Regions from separate parts of the Homo sapiens genome. Here regions 2 and 3 are each linked to region 1. Evidence: fine-mapped expression QTL. A gene starts in region 1. Each other region holds a variant in brackets. All regions are shown on one strand. Distances are between the middles of the regions. Region 1 holds the start of CSNK1E (casein kinase 1 epsilon). Region 2 overlaps TPTEP2-CSNK1E (TPTEP2-CSNK1E readthrough). Region 3 overlaps TPTEP2-CSNK1E (TPTEP2-CSNK1E readthrough).

Region 1 (2,756 bases):
CATAGAAACGAAGGCAAAGGAGACCCAAACACAGGCATTGCTTGGAAGCAACTTGAGACACTTGTGTCCCCTTCTCCTCTCTCCAAATCCTTCTCCAGGAAGGAGGCTATGCCAGGAAGAAAATATGCAAGAAAACTAAGGGAAAAGTTGGGGAGGGGGCTCACCCCACTTCGAGTTAGGGTATTAACAAGAGCTTGGGAATCCTCTAACGACACCCAGACACTGTTTTGCGTTCCTTAGAGACTTGCAAGACATCAATCTCTCACACAAAAATGGGAGAATCCGATCCGACAAATAACCCCCACCCCTTTCTTTCTCTCCACAAAGAAAAACAAATCAGTGGCCTGGTGACCACACACCTCTTCACCTTAGGACCCCCAAACGCCCGTCATCCAACGAGCGGGCGCAGCCTTGCGAACCCCCAGGTCCGGGCGCCGGGGCCGGGAGAGCAGGGGGCGCCGGTGATTGTCCGATGAAACGCTACGCGGGCCCGAATCAACAGTATCCGGCGCCCAGCACCCCAAGCCCCCTCCCTCAGCGTCCCCAAATCACAGCCGGGGTGGCCGCCTGGCCGGCCGGGGCCTCGGAGGGCCCAGCGGGGGGAAGCGGAGGCAGGCCGGCCGGGGGGCCTCCCCCGCGAGCCTGCAAAATAACAGGCCCCCTCCTCCTCGTCCCCAGCCGCGCCTTTGTCCTCGCCGGGCCGAGCGGGCGGCGCCCGGGCTGCCCCCCCTACACCCCAGCGCGAACGCGCGTGTGTCTGCCCTCCCTTCCCTCCCTCTCCAGCAAAAACAAAGAGGCTGAGGGAGCCCGATTCCCCCCAGGTTTGCACCCTTCCGCGGGCCCGCGGCCCCCCGATATTTACCCCGCCGGGAAGGCGCCGATGCCGGGCCACTGCTCGGGGGGCTGCCGCGGGCGGGGGCGGCCCGCCGGGGCGGATGCCGGAGGATTCGCGGAGCCGCCCGGCGCGCCAGCCTCTCCCGGCCCAGCCGCCGCCGCCGCCGCCGCCGCCGCGCTCCGCTCGGCCCCGGCCGGGCTCTGGCTCTGGGCTCTCGCCGCCGCCGCCGCCGCCGCCGCCGCCTCCCTCCTCCCGGCCTCCTGCCCGCCCGCCCGCCCCCGCCGCCGGCTCGCGCGCTCTCGCACCGCGCGCGCCCGCCGGCTCCCATTGAGCCCCGGGCCCGCCCGCTGATGTCATCCCCGGCCCGCCGCCGCCGCCCCGGAGGATTTAAAGGGCCCGCGCCCTCCGCGCTGGGGGCCGCAGCTGCGAGACGCAGTTCCCCAGCCTCAGTGCAGGCGCGCGGGCTTACGCGTGGGGGTGGGGGAGCACACAGATACTGACACCCTAATGCAGTCCAGGGCACAGGTGGAAAAGACGGGGTGCGGGGGGGACAGAGGGAAGAGGAGGGCGCACAAAAAGCGGAGGTGAGGGGATGGGAGGGGAGGGTCTAGACCCAAAGTCTCCTCTCCCCGCCTGCCAGGATCTCTCTCCTCTCCAGGCAGAGCACTGGGCCCCTGCGAAAACAGGCGGCTATTCACGACACTGCAAAAGATGTTAGACTGCTGGAGGCTCAGTCCGCCTCCAGGTTCCGAGTGCCGCAGAGAACACAGGCCAGGTTGATTCAGGGCAAGAGATTTGAGGAGACAGCTAGGGATGTCGACACAAGGCCCAGAAAGGTAGCCTGGGCTCATACATTCTCCTCCCGTGGAAAAACGAAGGGCAAAGACCTCTTCTTCTTTTCCCTGAAGCTCAAACTGTGATGGGCACAGAGAGGACCCCTCAGATCCCAACCTCATTCTCCCCTGTTGAAGGAGGGGTGCCACAAGTACCAAAGCACCGACACTTGAGTCTGGGCTCCGAGTGGTGCACGTTTAGCCAAGCCACCTCCCAGCTCTGAGCTTGGGTTTCCTTAAACAGCAAATGGGAGGAAGGACCCTGTCCTCCCCAGGTCACAGAATTAATAAAAGCTTCTACCGGCATGCAGAGCCGCGATGAAAGGTTGCAGAACAAAGTCATTAAAGTGATGATATTTACACTGAGCCATGCAAAGCTTCCAATTATGACACACCTATATTCACACAGTTGTGACTGTGGACACGCAAAATGCCTGAGGCCCTGCGTCCAATCCCGGAAGCACAGTTCCTGGGAGGAGTCACTTCTATAATAGCCGTATCTTCCCTCCTCGAGGCTGAGGGACTGAGTCACACACGTGTCCAAACGGGCAGGAGCCCCACAGACTAAGTCCTTTCGCCGGCCAGGAAACTGGCCCAGAGAGGGGAAGGGCTTTGCCCAGGACCACAAAGCCCAACAGGACAGCTCTGTTCTCCCAGCGATCACCAGGAAACTGGGTCTATCTAGAGCCCATTTCCAAGAGCAGGAGAGTGAGAAGCCTCCTCCCAGGAGGGCCTGCCTTCAGTGACACCTTTGCCAGAGCAGGGGGTCACCAGCCAGGTGGTGGGCTTTACTTGGCCTGCGCGGTGCTTTCTGTTGTTGTTTTGTTAATTAATCCCCAAAGTTTTTTTTTTTTTTTTTGCTTTTTGTTTTTGTTGGTTTTGAGATAGAGTCTCGCTGTGTGGCTCAGGCTGGAGTGCAGTGGCTCAATATCGGCTCACTGCAACCTCTGCCTCCTGGGTTCAAGTGATTCTCCAGCCTCAGCCTCCCTCCTGAATAGCTGGAATTACAGATGTGCACCACCACACCTGGCTAATTTTTGCCCAGGACCACACAGTATTTTTAGTAGAGACGGGGTTGGCCAGGCTGG
Region 2 (2,756 bases), 28 kb before region 1:
CCAATCCTGTGCTCCCAACCCTCCACGCCTGCACCACCTCCAGCCTAGTAGCTGGCACCCTGGTGCCCACACAAAAGCCCAGTTAGCAAGTGTTTTTTGTGGCATGAATGAAAATGACTCACCAGGTGCCTGTTTGCCCCCTCTGGTAGGGGCAAAATTTCCTTGTGATTATTTGGTGTACTTAAACTGTATGGTTGACGCATTAATGTCACTTCCTTAGAGGCTGTCAGTCACTGCCCACTCCCAAACATTAGCTCTCTAAGAAAGGAATGCAGGAAGAAGCATGATGGGTAGAAATGGGGCAGAGCAGCAGGGGCGGGAGGGATTCTCAGATTATAGCTTTTTAGACAGCTTGACTTTCGTGTATGTAAACACCTTCATATCCAAAAAATAAACCAAAAAAGAGGAGGGGGAGAAGCATTAGCTTATTATTAAAATTGATTAAATAGGGTGGGCACAATGGCTCATGCCTGTAAATCCAGCACTTTCGGAGACTGAGGTGGGAGGATTGCTTGAGCCCAGGAGTTCAAGACCAGCCTGGGCAACACAGTGAGATCTAATCTCTACAAAAAATACAAAAGTTAGCCAGGCATGGTGGCACGCACCTGTGGTCCCAGCTGTTAGGGAGGCTGAGGCAGGAGGATCCCTTGAGCCTGGGAAGTTGAGGCTGCAGTGAGCCATGACTTCACCACTGCAGTCCAGCCTGGGTGACAGAGCAAGATCCTGTCTCAAAAACAAAACAAAACAAAAAAAAAAACAAAACTATACTTTTCACTGTAAAAGACAAAGACCAGCTCCTTATTATTTTCTCTCAGGGCCTCTAGTTGGTAACTTCCACTCGCTGTCTGGTGTCAGGTTGTCCATCCCAGAAGGTCCTAAAGTCCAGGGAGGCAGGGGAACTCTCTGCTGCATTCCCCCAGCACCTCATTCAACCAAGTGCGGGTGAACAAAATGGCTCTTCGCAGGCTGACCAATTGACCACTGACTCCTGGCTGCCACCCAGCCCCAAGGCCCAGGCTCTGCTTAGCACCTGCCATTCCAGGGCCTACTGGCATTTCCTGGCTTTGGTAACACACCTGATACCTGATGCCTGTAAAGGGGACCCACCTTTACTTGGGCCTCACACAGCAGGAAACCCTCCACCAGGCCGTGAGCCTGTGGGTCACTGGGTCTTGACGGCCAGCACTGGAAGGCGCCTTGACCTATGTCCAGGATTTCAAAACGCCCGAGGGGAACCTCCCAGGGCCCTCCATCCGCTTCCCAGGCAGACCTA[T/A]CAGCCAGACAGCTTCCGTCTTGCCTCTGGGTTGAGACTGTGGCAATAATGGCTCTTCGGTTGACGAAAGGAAGTAAACTGTGTTGGGTAAATGCAGATGGACAGATTCTTTTCCAAGCTGGTGAGACCAAGGCAGGCGAGGCTGAGCGCTGCCCTTTTATCAAGGCTTGACTGAAGGACCTCATCCAGAGTCACTATCAGAGCTCGCTCCAGCACTCTCCTTCATGGAGCCCCAGGGTCAGCAGTGGAGAGGGTCAGAGCACCCCCACAACCCCCACAGCGAGATGACCTCGGCTCGTCTTGCCTCTGCCACCAGAGCTGTGACTGTGGGCAAGATATTTTACAGCAGGACCAGTTTCTTGTCCGAAGGCAGGGCTATTAACAGGACCTAACTCAGGATACTTGTGTGGATAAAATCATGTGTGAAGAGCTTTTAGGGCCTTGCTTCTCAAAGAGGGGCCCCAGGCCATCAGCACACCTGGAGTGTGCAGGGGGAAGCTCTCAGCCCCACCCCAGCCCTCTTTACAAGACCCCCGCGTGGCACCTGTGGCGTGGCACCTGTGTGCACTCGTGTTTTCAAAGCCCCCGGACATCCCAACCACAGCCCAAGTGTTCTGAAAGTGGCCCCAGCCACACCTGCCTTCAGGGCGAGGGCTTGTTCCTCACTGACTCCTGCTGCTCCCAGCAAGACCCACTTCCGGGTCTGCAGGGAGAGGCCCTAAGGGCACAGAGGTGGACAAAGGGCTGCCTGCATCACTTTATCTTTTCTACTTTATTACTTCAAATTAACAACCACGATAAAGCTCAAAAAAGTCCAATATTTACACAGGAAAAAAGTACAAAATTCCCCCCAAAGTTCTTCAGTTTTTTTTTTTTCAGTTTTTTAAATTACAAAGTAATAAAAAGCTTTGCTCTTTAATTAAAAAAAAAAAGGAAAAAGGGGAAACAGAGGTAAATAAATTAGGAAAACACACACACGGAGAAAACAAACAAAAATAAAATAAAATAAAAACAAAAAGGTGTTAACTAGGAAGGATGGGTTAATCCAAAACCCAGCCCTGACTCCAGGCTCCTCCTCAGAAAGGTGGAACCAGGGAGAGGGGGGACCCCAGGTGACTGTCAGGACCAGGGAAGTAATTTATAACTCAGAGCCAGATGCCTTCTGGAAGCAGTCTCCATGGATTCTGCCCTAAAACCAGGAATGGAAGATGGAGCTGCCACCGGCTGATGACGGGCTAGGGGGGGACCGGTGGCAGCGAGGACCCTCTGAGCTCTGAGGGATGCGGAGGTCACCGCCCACCCCCATGTCCTTGTTAGTAGACACAGGAGAACGGGAATTCGGGCTGGCAGGCGGGGCGGGCCGTGGCACCTGCTGTCTTGGGAAACACAGGTCAATACATCCACACACACACACACACACACACACGCAGGGGACGCCGGCCCCCACCACCTCCCCACCCACTCCATGGAGAGGCAGAGGAGG
Region 3 (2,756 bases), 40 kb after region 1:
GGTCCGTTAAGGCTAAGGAGACATTCTGCCGGCCGGCTTTTAAAAATGTTTCCTATGGGCCTGGCGCGGTGGCTCACACCTGTCATCCCAGCACTTTGGGAGGCAGAGGCGGGCGGATCACTAGGTTAAGAGATTGAGAACATCCTGACCAACATGGTGAAACCCCGTCTCTACTAAAAATACAAAAATTAGCCGGGCGTGGTGATGCATGCCTGTAGTCCCAGCTACTCGGGAGGCTGAGGCAGGAGAATCGCTTGAACCTGGGACTCAGAGGTTGCAGTGAGCTGAGATCATACCACTGCACTCCAGCCTGGGCGACTGAGCTGCACTCTGTCTCAAAAAAAAAAAAAAAAAAAAAAAGTTCCCTATGGAGTCATCTGCCTTATTAACAATGGTTTTTGTCTTAGATGACTCCCTGACCTCATCTTCATGTTGTATACCTGCATTTTCACTGCAAACCTGTCACAGAAGGTCGGGTGTGGAATTTTCCACTTTTGGCATCATGTTGGCACTCAAAAAATTTCACATTTTGGAGCATTTCAGAATTTTTGGATTAAGGGTGCTCAGCCTGTAGTCAGATATAGTTGCATAGAGTGAAGGCATTATCCAAATAGATTTTTCAGTGATTGTGCTTTTTAAAAAGCAGACACATTTACATAACAATGAAGAAGTGGAAATCCTTTGCATCTTTAACCAGTCTCTTACTCTCATTCTCCTTCCCTCTTTTATAATCTTCCGTTTCAACTTAGGAAACTTATATTTCTCTATGCCAACTTTGTGAAACCATGCAGAATGGCTGTATCCAAAATTGCATGACAACAAAAAATTGTGAAAATGTCTGTCAAATCCAGTTGTTTAATTCTTTTAAAACTATGAGTATGAAATTATTGTTATTCTACCACTTACTGTTTTGAAAAGAGTTCAAGGTTTTAGCTAGGTTATTTAATTGATGTTAAATCTGAGGGAGTTCCAAAAATGTGAAGAAAAAAAGAACACATAATTGTCCGAAGATTTAAGATCCTGAAATGTGATTCAGTAAACATAGTCATCTGTAGTTTCAACTTGGAAATTAAAAATGAGAAGATAACTCTTATCCTGTTTTGAGGAAAAAAAAAAGCCTATATTTAAAGGTTAATCTACATGTTCACAGAGTAATTAAGATTGTATTAAAATGTCTTTGTTTCTATTTAAAGTTTGTTATTCTATAACACAGTAGTTGCTTTTTTCTA[T/C]AAGATCTTCAAGGCTGAGGACCCAGGCTCATGCCTGTAATCCCAGCACTTTGGGAGGCCAAGGCGGGCAGATCACTTGAGGTCAGGAGTTCAAGACCAGCCTGGCCGACACAGTGAAACCCCATCTCTACTAAAAATACAAAAAATTAGCTGGGCGTGGTGGTTCATGCCTGTAATCCCAGATACTTGGGAGGCTGAGGCAGGAGAATCACTTGAACCTGGTAGCTGGAGGTTGCAGTGAGCCGAGATTGTGCCATTACACTCCAGCCTGGGCTACAGGAGCAAAACTCAGTCTCAAAAGAAAAAAAAACCTTCAAGATAACAGTTTAATTTTAAAACAGTTGTTTAATGAAAAAAGGAAGGTTAGGGACTAGAGAATTTTTGAAACAATAATTATGATAGGAATATCAGTAACAAAATGTTTCTGAAGCTATAAATGTAAGCTAAAAATATAAACATCATTGACTAAATCCAGTCTTTGATTAGAACTAGTTTTTTCTCTATTAAGGCTCTTATTTTCTACTAGCACTAACTTGTACTCAACCCTTAGTACATATTCTCTCACTTTTTAGTAACCATTGTTATGATAAATTGAAAAGCCATTCAAATAAAATTTTGTGTGAATTAATCTGTTTGCCAGAGTGAAAAGAGTAGTAACAATAGGTAAACAGAACACTTGTGGCTCTAAGTCAGGGACTTAAAGTGGTGCGCTTAGCGGATAACGCTTCTGGTCACCTACAGTTTGTTTCTGAAAACTGAAAGGAGTTTCAGTGGTGATAGCTGGGATCACAGGCGACCGCCACCATGACCGACGAATTTTTTGTATTTTTAGTAGAGACGCGGTTTCACCATATTGGCCAGGCTGGTCTTGAACTCCTGACCTCCAGTAAACCACCCGCCTCTGCCTCCCAAAGTGCTGGGATTATAGGAGTGAGACACCACTTCCAGCCTACATGTGTCTTTATGGGAGAAGAGTGTTTCCTGTAGGCAACAGAGCAATGGGTCTTTTTATTTTATTTTATTTATTTATTTATTTATTTATTTTTGAGCTGGAGTCTTGCTCTGTCACCAGACTGGAGTGCAGTGGCACCATCTCGGCTCACTGCAACCTCTGCCTCCCGGGTTCAAGTGATTCTCCTGCCTCAGCCTCCTGAGTAGCTGGGACTACAGGTGCGCACCACCACACCCTGCTAATTTTTGTATTTTTAGTAGAGACAGGGTTTCACCATGTTTGCCAGGATGGTCTCTAGCTCTTGACCTCATGATCTGCCTGCCTTGGCCTCCCAAACTGCTGGGATTACAGGCGTGAGCCACCACACCTGGATGGGTCTTGTTCTTTCATCCATTCATCCACTCTATCTTTTGATTGAAAAGTTTAGTCTACTGACACTCAATGTTATTATTGATAAGTAAGGACTTACTCCTGCCATTTTGTTATTTGTTTTCTGGTTGTTTTGGGGTCTTCTCTTCCTTCTTTCATTCCTGTCTTTCATTAGTGAAGGTAATTTTCTCTGGTGATATGATTTA

Evidence for each region. PIP is the estimated chance that this variant, and not a neighbour inherited with it, causes the effect. A credible set is the group of variants that fine-mapping cannot tell apart.
Region 2: its variant is the best candidate, but not a certain one, in a credible set for the expression of CSNK1E in whole blood (INTERVAL, PIP 0.83).
Region 3: its variant is the best candidate, but not a certain one, in a credible set for the expression of CSNK1E in whole blood (INTERVAL, PIP 0.72).

What each region holds. Positions count from the first base shown.
Region 1 is chr22:38,316,298-38,319,053 of GRCh38, forward strand. CSNK1E (casein kinase 1 epsilon) reads right to left here and starts at 1,136. Exons shown (of 11, transcript NM_152221.3): 1 at 863-1,136. All of the region lies in intron 5 of TPTEP2-CSNK1E (TPTEP2-CSNK1E readthrough), which reads right to left. RefSeq lists a silencer at 464-853 and an enhancer at 2,576-2,756.
Region 2 is chr22:38,288,665-38,291,420 of GRCh38, forward strand. TPTEP2-CSNK1E (TPTEP2-CSNK1E readthrough) reads right to left here. Exons shown (of 15, transcript NM_001289912.2): 15 at 2,027-2,756. It overlaps CSNK1E (casein kinase 1 epsilon), which reads right to left. Exons shown (of 11, transcript NM_152221.3): 11 at 2,027-2,756. Among named protein-coding and RNA genes, the nearest start is that of TMEM184B, 17 kb to the left of the region's middle. RefSeq lists enhancers at 591-1,300, 1,301-2,008. The variant T/A (reference allele first, on the strand shown) is at 1,274.
Region 3 is chr22:38,356,200-38,358,955 of GRCh38, forward strand. The region is part of intron 4 of TPTEP2-CSNK1E (TPTEP2-CSNK1E readthrough); the gene reads right to left. It also overlaps the pseudogene TPTEP2. Among named protein-coding and RNA genes, the nearest start is that of CSNK1E, 40 kb to the left of the region's middle. The variant T/C (reference allele first, on the strand shown) is at 1,230.